Linked DNA regions of Homo sapiens. The protein of the gene in region 1 purifies or fractionates together with the protein of each later gene. This does not show direct contact. Each region holds a gene or a part of one and is shown on either strand. Other genes may lie near its edges.

Region 1 (8,029 bases):
AATTAGCCAGCCATCGTACCACAAGCTTGCAATCCCAGCTACTCAAGAAGTCGAGGCAGGAGAATCGCTTGAATCCGGGAGGTGGAGGTTGCAGTGAGCCAAGATTGCACCACTGCACTCCAACCTGGCTGACAGAGCAAGACTCCATCTCAAAAAAAAAAAAAAAAAAAAAAAAAAAAATCACTGGGTTTACAAGTTTATTAAAGATAGCTTGAATGATTGTTGCCCCATTTCACTTGCATTTTGAAGGAGTCATTGTTTTCTCTAATTTTAAATTAATATACAGTCATTTCTGTGTTTTTTTGCAGAAAGTAAAATTACTCATTCTTATTCATATCCACTTAACCTGCAGAAGGCCAATGTAGTCCGCTGGGAGTCCTCAATAAGGATCACTGCTTTACCCATCACTTGGGCTGGGCATTATTAAGATACAGTGATGGGTAAGGAGAAAACAGAAACGCAAAAGACCGTAATGGGTGGTGAGAGAACAGTACCAGGTTTGGGAGAGACCTGCGCAGGCTGAGGTGTAAACTACCAGAGTGTGAAATGGTTGCAAGATTAAGTTACGATTATGAGGAGTGTCCTCTTGGGAAGTCAAAAGTAGTGTCTGCTGGGCACAGCCCCAGTTTACATTTGGAGATCAGCTAACACCTGTGAATTATTTTACTGCCCCCTTTCACTTTTAAAAATGTCCCAGTTTAGATAATGTTACGTGGCCACTCCATATTTATAAAGCCCAACTAGATTTTCATACATTGGCTAATGGTCTTAAGCAACTAGGTATACATAGTTCTATTAATGCTTGATATTGAGACTGGATTTGGTAGTCAAGAATTGCTATGAAGGATGTTGAGACATTCCTTAATGTGGGAATCACTCCCATGCCACGGTTTGGTCCAGCACACATACAAAAAAAAAATTGTTTTTAAATTTAAAAATTGCCCCATTTGTGGCAACACATCTGTTTAGATATTTACAATACTGAGGGGCAAGGGAAACACACCTTTAAACTATATTAAGATAAGAGACTTTCATTTCTTTTTTTTTTTTTTTTTTTTTTTTTTTTTTGAGACGGAGTCTCGCTCTGTCGCCCAGGCCGGACTGCGGACTGCAGTGGCGCAATCTCGGCTCACTGCAAGCTCCGCTTCCCGGGTTCACGCCATTCTCCTGCCTCAGCCTCCCGAGTAGCTGGGACTACAGGCGCCCGCCACCGCGCCCGGCTAATTTTTTGTATTTTTAGTAGAGACGGGGTTTCACCTTGTTAGCCAGGATGGTCTCGATCTCTTGACCTCATGATCCACCCGCCTCGGCCTCCCAAAGTGCTGGGATTACAGGCGTGAGCCACCGCGCCCGGCCTTCATTTCTAAGATGTCTGGGAAATTTAAAGAAATCTAGTTGATTTCTGTAGGGAGGAAACTTCCAAAGCACTTAGATGGTAAAGATTAAGGGCAGCAGAAATAGAAACTGTTAATGAGACCATGTAAGAAATTTTGCTTGGTCAACCCGGGCAATGTAGTGAAACTCTGTCTCTACAAAGGGTTGTTGTTGTTTTTTTTTTTTTTGAGATGAAGTCTCGCTCTTGTCCCTCAGGCTAGAGTGTGATGGCACAATCTCGGCTCACTGCAACCTCCGCCTCCTGGGTTCAAGCGATTCTCCTGCCTCAGCCCCCTGAGTAGCTGGGATTACAGGCGCCTGCCACCACGCCCGGCTAATTTTTGTATTTTTAGTTGAGAAGGGGCTTCACCATGTTGGCCAGGCTGGTCTAGAACTCCTGACCTCAGGTGATCCACCCGCCTCGGCCTCGCAAAGTGCTGGGATTACAGGCGTGAGCCATAGTGCCCAGCCAACAAGGTATTTTAAAAAGTAGCCGGGCATGGTGGCGGGTGCCTGTGGGAGGCTGAGGTGGGAGGATCGCCTGAGCCCTGGCAACGCTGCAGTGAACTGAGATGGCACCACTGCACTCCAGCCTGGGCGACAAGGGCAAAACTCCGTCTCATAAATAAATTAATAAGTAAATAAGAAACCCAAAATGCGTATCTCTTATTCTGCCACTTTGGATTTACCTACATGTATCAGTATTCAGCAAAACTCCGTCTCATAAATGAATAAATAAGGAACCCAAAATGCAAATCTCTGTTCTGCCACTTCGGATTTACCTGTATCAGTATTCCGTGCTCCTGCACCGAAATGTCGCTGATCCTCCCAAGCAAGTAAACTGAAAATCTTAGTTCTAATTTCCTAAGGACTACAATGTTAGGACTACATGTTAATATCAGAACATGAATGAATAAACAATAGAACATAACTAGTTATATTCGCCAGGCGCGGTGGCTCACGCTTGTAATCCCAGCACTTTGGGAGGCCGAGGCGGGCGGATCACCTGAGGTCGGGAGTTCAAGACCAGCCTGGCCAACATGGAGAAACCCTGACTCTACTAAAAATACAAAATTAGCCGGGCATGGTGGCGCATGCCTGTAATCCCAGTTACCCGGGAGGCTGAGGCAGGAGAATCGCTTGAACCAGGGAGATGGAGATTGCAGTGAGCTGAGATCGCGCCACTGCACTCCAGCCTGGGCAACAAGAGCGAAACTCTGTCTCAAAAAAAAAAAAAACTAGTTATATTCATAGCCTTGATTTTGTTTGCATATGTTCCTAATGCTATTTGTAAACAAATCCCAGACATCAAGAAATGGATTTTGTTAATAGGAATTTCTTCAGATTTTAGGAAAATCTGAAGAAAAATAACTTCCGGATCTTCCTATCAACACATCCTTTATTGTGTCCCCCCCTCTCTCTTGCTTGTGATAGCTGTGGTGGGCTAAATATATTCCAGCACTAATACCCTATCCTAGCCTTCATGTCAAGTGTTCACGATTCTTAAATTTTACTCTTCTAGTGCATACAACAGTTACTGGAAAATGCAGATTTAAATTATTTGAAACAATGATTAAATTCTGCTCCTGTGCTCCAAGGGGCTTTTACGTTACCTTTTATTGAGTTAATAAAAATGGAAATAGTTTTCAATTGGTGCAGTTTCTAAACTTCTCAGCAAAAATCACTAATCCAGGCTAATGGGAAGAGAAAAGCAGCAGCAGGGTTTAGTTAGAACTGAACTTTAAGATATGCTGAAGGAAAAAAAATTTCTAAAAGTGTTAACAAGGGGAGGTCCATGGAGACCTTAATAGCTAAAAACCGTTGTAATTTAATGTATAGAAATAAATACTCTAAACCATTTTAGAGTCTTCATTCTCAGGACTACCTCACTGTGTTTATACAGTTAATATGCACTAGCTAAGACTAAAGTATTTGTCCAATTCTTATTTAAATTTCCCCCTAGACTGGTAGGGTCTTAAAGTAATGATATTTTAACTACAGTCGGTTTATTACAGGTGACCTAACGGTGCCTGTTGTGCCTTATAAAGGCCAAGACTTTCAATTATCCCTAATAAGTATACAATAGGATACCCATTGTTTCCAAGTGCTTTTAAATTCTTGACGCTGATGAGACATTTGCATCGTGACCAGCCACCAGTAAAATCTTTTAAGCCACGTTTTTTCTGCTTTTCTTGGGCACTCTTTTTTTTTTTTTTTTTGAGACGGAGTCTCACTGTTGCCCAGGCTGGAGTGCACTGGTGGAATCTCAGCTTACTGCACCCTCCACCTCCTGGTTCATGCCATTCTCCCACCTCAGCCTCCTGAGTAGCTGGGACTACAGGCGTGCGCCATCACGCGCAGCTAATTTTTGTATTTTTAGCAGTATTGGTTGCGCCATGTTGGTCAGGCTGGTCTCGGACACCCGACCTAAAGTGTCCCGCCCGACTGGGCCTCCCAAAGTGCTGGGATTACAGGCGTGAGTGCTCGGCCTCGGGCACTCTTTACTGAGCAACAACAGGTTGGAGAAACTAGTAGGGCTTCCAGTTTTTTGGTAAACCTATTGTTTAAAAGTCTGCCTGGTCATCAGATTCCAGTCGTCTTGTTTCTGCCTCAGATGATAAAACTCTAAAATTATAGGATGTGAGATCTGGAAAATGTTTGAAAACACTAAAGGGGCACAGTAATTATGTCTTTCGTTGCAACTTCAATAGCATGTATATTTTACACACTTTCATGACCATTAATCATCTCCTAAAACTGGGGAAAGCTCTCTAAAACCTCCTTAAGAGTAACCTTATCCGTTACCCTATTCCACCAACCTCTTTGTCCTTTTCTGTTTCAAGCAACTTTGAGATACCGACTTCTCTATGGAAGCTTAAGCCGTAGATGCTAAAACAAACGTTTGCTCGTTACTCCCAGCAGAGCACCGGCTTTTAAAGGACCTCAACAGACACGTTTCTTAACCTTTACGAAACTTTTCCAGGGGAAACTTAAACCAGGAATTTTACAATCTGGCATAAATTCTGTCACCCGCCCCGTGACTCCATCGCCACACATGCCACCTGGCTCCACACCACAACAAACAGGAGGGAGCGGAACCCATGCAAAGCAGGAGCTTCCCCCGTTTCCGGCGTCTGGGTGGATCTACGTTAGCTGCCGTTTAGGCAGCTTACGCGTCAGGTGTGGGCCTAAGCCTGCAGCTAAGGTAGGCATCCGCAAATCTAGTCCTTCTCTGTGACAATTTCCAAAAAGAAATGGTTTTTGAAACAACGATCCACTGCTTCCCACACTATCCAGTTAGGTCCGGGACAGACCCTACCCAGCTAATGCACTCACCCAAGAAGGCAGTCGCTTTCGCATTTGAAGGGCGGGGCGAAAAAGACCGGAAATGAACATTGGCGACTTTTTTGCGCAGGCGCAGATGGCCGTCTCCCATTGGTCATCTCGGCTCGGTAGTGGTAGGAGGGACTTCCTTTGCACATGCGCCAGGCTGCTTTTCCGGCTTTGTTGGAGATTGACGCGGCAGTGCACACCTGCTGGTACGAGCAAAAGTAGCCGACAGGCCAGAGTTTCCAGTTTCGGTGGCTTCGTAGGCTTTTAGCTTCTGAAATCCGCTAAAAGCGGCGGTTCATTCATCTTCAAGTACCTAGCCTGACTGGTAGGGCTGCTCAGCATTCCGAAACATTTCGACCTGGGGAGGGGGGCGGCGGTGAAAGAATACTTTCTGTAGAGAGTGCCCCTCGCGTCGCCCCTGCTTTGAAGGCTTTATGTATTAACGGAATGCCGAACATTTGTGTCCTACTTGCTGACAGCGCACAGGATCCTTCTAACAGTATTTCTCAAGTACTTAACAAAAAGATGAAAACTTGAAGTCCAAGCCGTGCTGCTGATTCCGTCTCACAGTTTAAAGACTGTCCAGAAACTTTAAGCTTTCAAAACTGTACATTTTAAAATCCTGTGCGTTTATCTTCATTTTGCTGGGCAGAAAGCCAAAGTACTGGACTGCCTGGTTCAGGGCTGAACGCCTAGTACACCTGCTAACTTGGAGCTTCAGAGCCATGGCAACCAAGGAGTCAAGAGACGCCAAAGCACAGTTGGCCCTCTCCTCATCGGCCAATCAGAGCAAGGAAGTGCCTGAAAACCCAAACTATGCTCTCAAATGTACTCTTGTGGGACACACGGAAGCAGTGTCATCAGTTAAGTTTAGTCCTAATGGAGAATGGCTAGCAAGTTCTTCTGCTGATAGGCTAATCATAATTTGGGGAGCATATGATGGAAAATATGAGAAAACACTCTATGGTCATAATTTGGAAATATCGGATGTTGCCTGGTCATCAGATTCCAGTCGTCTTGTTTCTGCCTCAGATGATAAAACTCTAAAATTATGGGATGTGAGATCTGGAAAATGTTTGAAAACACTGAAGGGGCACAGTAATTATGTCTTTTGTTGTAACTTCAATCCGCCATCCAACCTTATAATCTCGGGATCTTTTGATGAGACTGTAAAAATATGGGAGGTGAAAACAGGAAAGTGTCTCAAGACTTTGTCTGCTCATTCTGACCCAGTTTCTGCTGTTCATTTTAATTGTAGTGGGTCCTTGATAGTGTCAGGTAGCTATGATGGCCTCTGTAGAATCTGGGATGCTGCATCAGGTCAGTGTTTAAAAACGCTCGTTGATGACGATAACCCTCCTGTCTCTTTTGTAAAATTTTCTCCAAATGGTAAATACATTCTCACTGCAACTTTGGACAACACTCTTAAACTATGGGATTATAGCAGAGGCAGGTGCCTGAAAACATACACTGGTCATAAGAATGAGAAATATTGCATATTTGCCAATTTTTCAGTTACTGGTGGAAAGTGGATTGTGTCTGGTTCCGAGGATAACCTGGTTTACATTTGGAACCTTCAGACTAAAGAGATTGTGCAGAAATTACAAGGCCATACAGATGTTGTGATCTCAGCAGCTTGTCATCCTACAGAAAACCTCATCGCATCAGCAGCATTAGAAAATGACAAAACAATTAAACTGTGGATGAGTAACCACTAATCCCTTTGAAAATCAAGTAGTAGAGCCAAGTTGGCCAAAAAACTTGGATATTTAAAAAGACGGTTTCTTTTAATTTTGGCAGTTTGGTATTTTAAAAATTGTCTATTGTTAAATTTTGAGATTCATACACTACATTTACAAAATGAGATAGTTGAAAAAGCACATCTAGAATTCAGCTTCTGACTACCAATCTTTTTTGAGCAACTTTTTGTAATTTTTATGGATTTATGTCACTTTTATTACAGGGATATATTGCATAGTGGTGAAATCTGGGCTTAGTATACCCTCACCCAAATAGTATACATTGTACCTAGTAAATACTTTCCCATCTCTCACCCCACTCCCACCTTTGAAGGCTCTAGTGTCTATGATTCTGCTCTCCACGTCCAGGTGTACACATTGTTTATCTCCCACTTACGAGAACATGTGGTTTTTGACTTTCTGTATCATTACTTCACTTAATGGCCTCCAGGTCCATCCATGTTGTTGCAAAAGATAAGATTTCATTATTTTTTTTTGGCTGAGTAGTATTCTGTGGTGTGTATGTGTGTGTGTGTATGCATATATGTGTATGTGTATGTATATAAGTATATACACCACATTATCCAGTCATCTGGATATGTATATAAGTATATACACCACATTTTCTTTATCCAGTCATCTCTTGATGGACCCTTAGGTTGGTTCCATAACTTTGCTATTACGAATAGTGCTGCGATAAACAGCACTATTATGAATAGTGCTGCGATAAACAGTGCAGGTGATTTTAAAATATAATTTCCTTTGGGTAGATACCTACTAGTGGGATTGCTGGATCGAATGGTAGTTTTTAGTTGGAAAATCTCCATACTGTTTTCCAGAGGTTGTAAAATGTACATTCCTCCCCACAGTGTATAAGCTGTGCCTTTACTCTGCATCTTTGCCATGATTCTTTTTGAGACAGAGTCTCTGGTGCCCAGGCTGGAGTGCAGTGGCACAATCTTGGCTCACTGCAACCTCTGCCTCCCGGGTTCAAGCAGTTCTCATGTCTCAACATCCCAGGTAGCTAGGATTACAGGCGTGCCACCATGCCTGGCTAATGTTTCTATTTTTAGTAGAGACAGGGTTTCACCATGTTCGAGGCTGGTCTTGAACTCCTGGCCTCAAGTGATCCACCTGCCTCGGCCTCCCAAAGTGCTGGGATTACAGGCATGAGCCACTGTACCCAGCCATTTTTTGACTTTTTAATAATAGCCATTCTAACTGGTTTAAGAGAGTATCTCATTGTGGTTATATTTTGTATTCCTCTGATGATTAGTGATGTTGAGCATTTTTTTGTGTGTGTTTGTTGGCCACTTGTATGTCTTCTTTGAAAACTGACTTCTAATCTTGAGGCCTATTAATAATTTCATTTGTCTGTCACTGGACAATTTCTCATTCCTCTCAGTGACTATCCTAGAGGATCAGTGTATTTGAGAAATATTTAGAAGTAAAGTTGACAGGACAGGATGATTGATTAAAAGAGGGGAGCAAGGGAATTTGAAATAATTCCAGGGTTTCTGGTTTGGGAGATCAGATGAACAAGTGCATAAGCCTGGGATGCTGGTGGAGGACTGGAGAGACAT
Region 2 (7,000 bases), on another chromosome or scaffold:
TTGGCTCAGAATAAAATTAACTTTGACTTAAATCTATAGTGGCTGTTAGAATATCCAATCACCTAAAAGAGCTAAAAGTATGTCCATGTAAAGAGCAAGAAATAGTGGAGGTCAGGGGTGGGAGGTAATAAGAGTGTGCTTTCTAGGTAGTGGTCATCTAGGGGAAAGTGAGGGTAGTGTGCTTTTTTTTCTTTTAAATAAAAAGACTTGAATTATTTGTTTCTTCAATCCACGTGCATATATAACTTTAAAAATAAACACCAATGTAATTTATTAACTAAGAAATAAAAATACTTGATGATCAAGCCAGTTGGAAAAATTAGATACTTAGCTTTTCAAAAGACTAAGAAAATCCATCACAAGCCACTGAGGCTTTAAAAGCATTGCCTCAAGAAAGCAGGATTTAAAAAAAAAAAAAAAAAGCTATATAAAACACTTAAGATATTGCCTTCAGTCCCCTGGGTGGCCATCCACCTTGTTTAAGGTCTCCAAGAGATTTAACATCAAGGAAGCTCCAACAGTATGCACTATCCAACTCCCTAACCTGTCTACCTGGAATCTCTGCCTTACACCCTACTGTTAAGCTGAGGCCAGTCTGGTTTAGAAGGAACCTTAACCTCTCTCCCTTCACCAGAGCTGGTTGCAGGCTGCCAGCATCCTGTGTCTCCAGGATTGGGAGGGTTTCCTAAGAAACCCAGCTATCCAAGCCTAAGTCCATAAAGTCCCAGGAGCATCAGTCACTCATAAATCTCATCTCCTACCCCAGTGCATAGTATCATCTTGACTAATCCAGCGAGAGATTATACACATACTCCTCCCTGCAATGGCCAGATGAGGGATGACAATTGGCTCCATCTGAGCAACTGTCTTCCCTTCCACTTCCCAAAACCTCTCTTCCCTTATCTCTCCCTATATTTAACTGGCTCCACTGCTTTCCTCCATCAGCTCCTACTATTTTATGATGTACTTGCATTACCAACACATTGCTTAATTCCTTTTAGCCTGATTTTTTTTTTCTTGAGACAGGGTCTCACTCTGTTGCCCAGGCTGGAGTGCACTGGCACAATCACAGCTCACTGCAGCTTGGACCTCCTGGGCTCAAGGGAGATCCTCCCGCCTCAGCCTCCTACATAGTTGGAACTACAGGTACAAGCCACCACACCCAGCTAATTTTTGTATTTTTTGTAGAGGCAGGCTTTCACCATAATGCCCAGGCTGGTCTTGAACTCCTGTGCTCAAGTGATCTGCCTACCTTGGCCTCCCAAAGTACTTGAGATTACAGGCATGAGCCACCACACCTGGCCTAGCCTGATTTTTTTCACCTATAAATAGGAGTAATATTCCTTGAGGAGAGAGACTACCGGGCCATCTCTGCATTCTCCGTAGTGCCTAAACTCAACATGCACTGAAATATTCACCAAGTGATTAAACAAATGCACCTAAAACTACAATTCCAAGAAGGAATCCTTGGTCAATAAACTCTCCTATTCCTGGACTCTCTGACCTAGAACAACCTTGAGGTACAAGACAAGGCCATAGGTCCACAACCCCGGGGAACCAGAAGATACAGCAGAAGCTGTCACGATGCAGATGGAAAGCAGGACATACCTGGAAGGAAGTGGGAATACAGACGAGGTTCAGATTCTCTTGCTTCACCCTTTCAGCTGTGGAAACAAAAGCCATATTGGCAGTTTTTCACTCTCCTTACTTTATTCTTCTTGTCATATGTGTTTGCTCGAAACCAACAGACAAGGGAAGGTCTATTTCCCAAAGACAGCTGCCTTTCATCCTGTGTCCCCCTCCTTGGTGGGAAAGTTGGTGACTGTACCTCACACATCAGAAGATAGGGACACAAGAAAGCCTGGAGAGGTAAGTACTGACCACAGAAAGCAGTGTCAGTGTTTGCCATTGTTATGTGCCTGACAATATTCTAAGAACTTTGTATATATGAACTCTTAATCCTAACAACCCAAAAGGTAAGTTAAATTATTTTCCGCATTTTGCAGATAAGGCAACTGAGGTTCAGAGAGGTAATGTAACTCGGTAGTTATACTGCTAATAAGGGACACAGCTGGGACATGATCCCAGGCCATGTAGCCACACAGTCTTAACTCCCCTATATTGCCTCTTCTAGGAAAAAGCCAGAACTTTACTTTTGCATTTTAGTAAAAAACATACTTATTTGTAGGCCCCAGAGAGTAGCTAAAGGAGATTTATTTTTTCAATTTGGATTTGTACCTTTCAGGAAAGTTTGATTTAAAAAAAAAAAAAAGACTTCAGGAAAAAATTCGTATTAAAATTTCAAGTCTTTTTAATCACTGAGTGCATCTTGGGAGGTTTGGGTGCCACTATTATAAAATCCATAGTAACTCCTGTGCCCTGAAAGTATTCTCCAGATACTTGGTTAAGATTGAAAGGTATATAACACAAAAGCTCCTATTTGGCCAGTGAGAAGGCTTCCAGAAGCCATCACACCAGCACTAAAACCACTCCTTGATAACAAAGTGTTCCTGGACTTTACCTCCTGGGCTCTGCCCCTTGGCACCTAGAAGAATTCAGCATTCAGGCAGGCCTCTCCTCTGGGCTTTGTTCTTACAAACAAAGAGCAGGGAAGTAAAACCTGTTGAGCAGCCATAGGGGCTGATAATTCCTGAGTCTTTCCTAAGCATAGAGACACCCTAATCAGTGTGAAATGAGCACCTGCAGGAACCAGCCATCAATGGCAGGAGTCCCACATCCACTCCAGGGTCATGGACAGGGCAAACCCACTATGGCCTCAATTATCTGCCTGAGGAAGTCTGAGCTCACGCAAAGAACTCAATGGTAGAATGCCATCAACATGATTAAAATTATATTGGGACCTCAAGCTAAGTCAGCTCCTCCCCTCCAGCTGAGCAGAGTAAACAAAGGCAAGGGCGTCCTTCAAAGTTGGATGAAGAGGCCCAAGATTCCCTCTCTCCACAAAAGAGCAGAAACACTCAACTGACCTCAGGTAGTCCCTCTCTCCAGCTCTGTACTGCTGAAGCCAAAAGGGCAATGCCAAACCTGTGTGCCACTTCCTCCCTCTCCTCTACCTCCCTACCCCATCATCACACACAAAACATCCAGTAGACAGTGAGAGAGCATACCTATTCGCTGCACAGCATGGACAATTGTAGAACCACTTCCAATTCCCAGCACTTGGTTATTCTGCCAAAAAACGGGGAAGAAAAAACAAAACTTATTAATATCATATTTTACTCCTTTGTCAGCCTACTTCCTAAAGCTATAAAATTATTATGAACAGCAATCCACCAACACAGGTACAAGACAGGTACTGTGCCTATTTTATAGGAACATAAACAATGAACCTCAATGCTGTACTTTAGCCAATCCATGGTGGACAAATGTTCAACAAGGCCCTCCTCTCTTCATTTCTGACACTGTCAACACCACCGCTTCCTCCCTACATTCTACCAAATAATTGGTGCAATTACTTGCAACTGAATAGCAACTTGCGTCACCCTCACAGAAATGGCCTGCATATAAACACTTAAAGATTCCTGACATTTCAAGCCAGCAACAGTGTGTTTAAAAAAAAAAAAAAAAGAAAGAAAGAAAGAAGAAGAAGAAAGAAAAGAAAAAGATTCCTGGCCAATCCCAGGGAGGCAATTAGAAAAACACCTAAGAAAAAACAATAGAGCCTGGAGCCTGGGTAAGGGAGGAAAGCTAAGGCTTCTGGCTTCAGTGTCTTCCATAGGCACCTTCAAGTTGGTAGCACCACAAGACACATCAGGCCCACCATCTAGAGCTCTCCCAAAGTCAGCAGATAAAGGGAGGGCCTGAAGTAACCTCAAAATAATAAAGTATGTCAGCATCTGCCTAGGTGACACCAAGGGGTGCTCATTTTGCATGAGCCTGCCTCAGAGAAAATGGAAAGAGGGCAAAGGCTTAGTTAAGAACATGAAAAATAGTCTTCATCTGCAATAGAAAGGATCATAATAAATGCAGAGCACTTCCTGAGTACAAAGTACAGGCAGACATCACAATACGGAGCCTACCTACAAGCAGACCAAACAAGAAGAAACAAAGAAGGTACCTACAAGCAGACCAAACAAGAAGAAACAAAGAAGGTACCTGCAAGCAGACCAAAGAGTAAAAGCTCAGCTGAGTCTACTAGACCACAAAGAGCAAAACGAGGCCAGGGTACTAACAGTCAGGAACTAATATGCAGCTCAGTGCCTAAGCAACTTCCTGACATCTATCTCCTGCCTTTGCAAGGCAAAGCCAAGTGAACACCAAAGCGGCAGCTACCATTTATTAAGCACCTACCAAGAAGACTTATAAATGTTAATATAAAGCCAAATCTCACAACAATCACTTATGACCTACAGAGCCACTATTTCCACTTTATAGATGAGTTCAATATTGTAAGGAAAAACTTAAGACTTTGAAATGAGCAAAAGAGACTACTGGATATCCTTCCAATGGGATGCTGGAACCTGCTTGTATTGTCTGACTCTAAGAAGGTATGTGCCTTTGTCTTTAAGATATATGACGACTGTATAGAGATACACTTTAACTTGCAGAAAACTGTTAACAAAGCAAGTAAGTTTTGTTCATTGAAATGCAAATTAATAGTGTTCTGTGAGACACAATTATTAACAGATCTTCTAAATTCATTTTAAGATTTTTTTACTACATATGAGCTTACAGTTGACTTCTCCTGTTATGCTTTGAACATCTCCACCAAAACTCACGTTGAAATTTAATTGCCATTATAACAATATTAAGAAGTGGGACCTTTAAGAGGTGATTAGGTCAGAGGGCTCCACCCTCATGGGTAGGATTGGTGCCCACCCATAGCACTTCAACATCTGTCTCTCTCACCAGATGCCAACGCCTTGATATTGGACTTCGTAGCCTCCAGAAGTATAAGCCAAAACATTTCTGTTCATTATAAATTACTCATTCTCAGGTATTCTATTATAGCAGCACAAAATGGACTAAGACACCTATGAACAGGTTCTAATAACCTTTCCAGTTCCCTCATTAATTTAGTGAGTTAAATAAAATCTTTGACATATATTTGTTTTATATATGTGTGATTTTACCTGTTTTAAATATATATACAAGATATACAATATATCTTGTATATATGTTTATAATATATATAAACTATCAATGCCCCCCCACACACACACAAACTCATCTTCAAACTCCTGGGCTCATACAATCCTACTGCCTCAGCTTCCCACATAGCTAGTACTATGGGAACATGCCACCATGCCCAGCTAATTTTTTTAATTCTTTTAAAAGACACAGTCTCACTCTGCCAACCAGGCTAGTCTCGAACTCCTGGCCTCAAGTGATCATCTCACCTCTGCCTCCCAAAGTGCTGGGATTACAGGATGAGCCATTTCAATCGAATAAGCAACTTCAGGAAGTTCAATTCGCTGAAACATCAATCTATTTCAAATTTCTTAAGATTTCCAACAACTGATTAACAATTAATTTATTTGACAAAGGAAAGCCCATAGTAAAACCTTCTTTTTAGGAAGAAGACAAGTCCTGAAGGGCCCTCAGGACAAGCAGGGCCACAACTAAAATCCTTCATTCCCCACAGGACAAAGGCCATAGGAATACTTAAAGTCAGCCCCTAGGCCTCACATTAGATATGGTCCTTCTCAAAGCCTGACTACATCTATAACTAGAAAAGATTAGAAAGAATGACCAACAAGTAGAGTTACCAAAAAAAAAAAAATCAAATACTAATGTCCCCACAACCATATACATATATACTAAAAATGCTACTATAGCCTCTCCTACCTACAGAAGACTTTATCCAACAACTTTTGTGTTATTGACCTGGTGGAAACTGCTTTTACTAGCTCACAGTTCCAAAGGCACTGAATACATCAGGGGCTTGGGCTGTCAGAACAGGGCTCGCACTAGGTCAGGATTCCACCTATACCAATGCTCTCAAGAAGGCAATGTGTGTAGTAAAGTTGTTTAGCTACCTGGACAATCCCCAAAGGCAAGGACTTCAAGACAAGTAAATGATACATCACAGTACAGAAACATTCAAAATGGCTAAATATCTCACATATAAAAATCTTCAAGGAATGAGAAAATGTCTTATCAAGGCCTATGTCTGAGTGTGGAAAAACTCAAACTTTTTCCTCTGCTCTCACACCACAACAATCATCAACACAGAAGACTTCTGTGATCAAATGTATGGGGATTTCTCCCCGTATCCCAAGCAAGCAATCTACTCTGCAGCAGACACCAGCTGGGTATCCTCCAATTCAATTTCAACACTCTCTACCTGGAGATACCATAAGGTTCCACTGGTTGAGGGCTCAGCTCCCAAGATTGCCTCCTCCTTCCTACCAAATGCAAGTCCAGGCCTCCAGAACTTCTGACTTGACAGCTTCAAGTTGGAGTTTCCACAACACTCTCTTTGGGTTTGATTAACTTGCTAGAGTGGCTCACAGAACTCAGGGAAAACATGTTTACCAGCTTATAAAGGCTATGATGAAGGATATGGATGAAGAGATGCATAGGTAAAGGCATGTAAGAAGGAGCACAGAGCTTCCATGCTCTCTCTAGGCACACCATCCTCCAGGGACCTTCACATGTTCTGCTCTCCAGAAGCTTCCAAACCCTGTCCTCTCGAGCTTTTCTTTTTCTTTTTCTTTTTTTTTTTTTTTTGAGACTTTATTGAATAGGTATGATTGGCTCTTGGAAAAGACCAGGAATTGCAAGGGCCTAGAAATGTGACTGAACAAAAAGGGCATGATCCAATACTAGCAGACTGACTGGGGAAACCCTGCAACGGCTGTCTGTTCAGATTCTTCTTCACCTGCAGCATTCCTTCCTCCAGGGTATGGAACAGGAACCCTTCTGAAATGGGGATCTTATGACGTACAAACAGACAACATAGGTCACAGAATTTCTTTACAGCCAGCTCCAAGACAGAAAAGCATTGGGGAGAGAAAGGAGCAAGTGGAAGGAGGGA

Evidence for each region. The genes of interacting proteins can lie anywhere in the genome.
Region 2: the proteins of WDR5B (region 1) and RPIA purify together in Homo sapiens (affinity purification with mass spectrometry; 2 studies listed by BioGRID and IntAct, with this or other methods). This does not show direct contact.

The regions. Positions count from the first base shown.
Region 1 is NC_000003.12:122,412,932-122,420,960, reverse strand, and holds the start of WDR5B (WD repeat-containing protein 5B), read left to right. Parts: upstream 1-4,898; 5' UTR 4,899-5,432; coding exon 5,433-6,425; 3' UTR 6,426-8,029. UniProt on the Homo sapiens protein: May function as a substrate receptor for CUL4-DDB1 ubiquitin E3 ligase complex.
Region 2 is NC_000002.12:88,694,673-88,701,672, reverse strand, and holds part of RPIA (ribose-5-phosphate isomerase), read right to left. Parts: intron 3,190-7,000; coding exon 3,129-3,189; intron 1,665-3,128; coding exon 1,609-1,664; intron 1-1,608. UniProt on the Homo sapiens protein: Catalyzes the reversible conversion of ribose-5-phosphate to ribulose 5-phosphate and participates in the first step of the non-oxidative branch of the pentose phosphate pathway.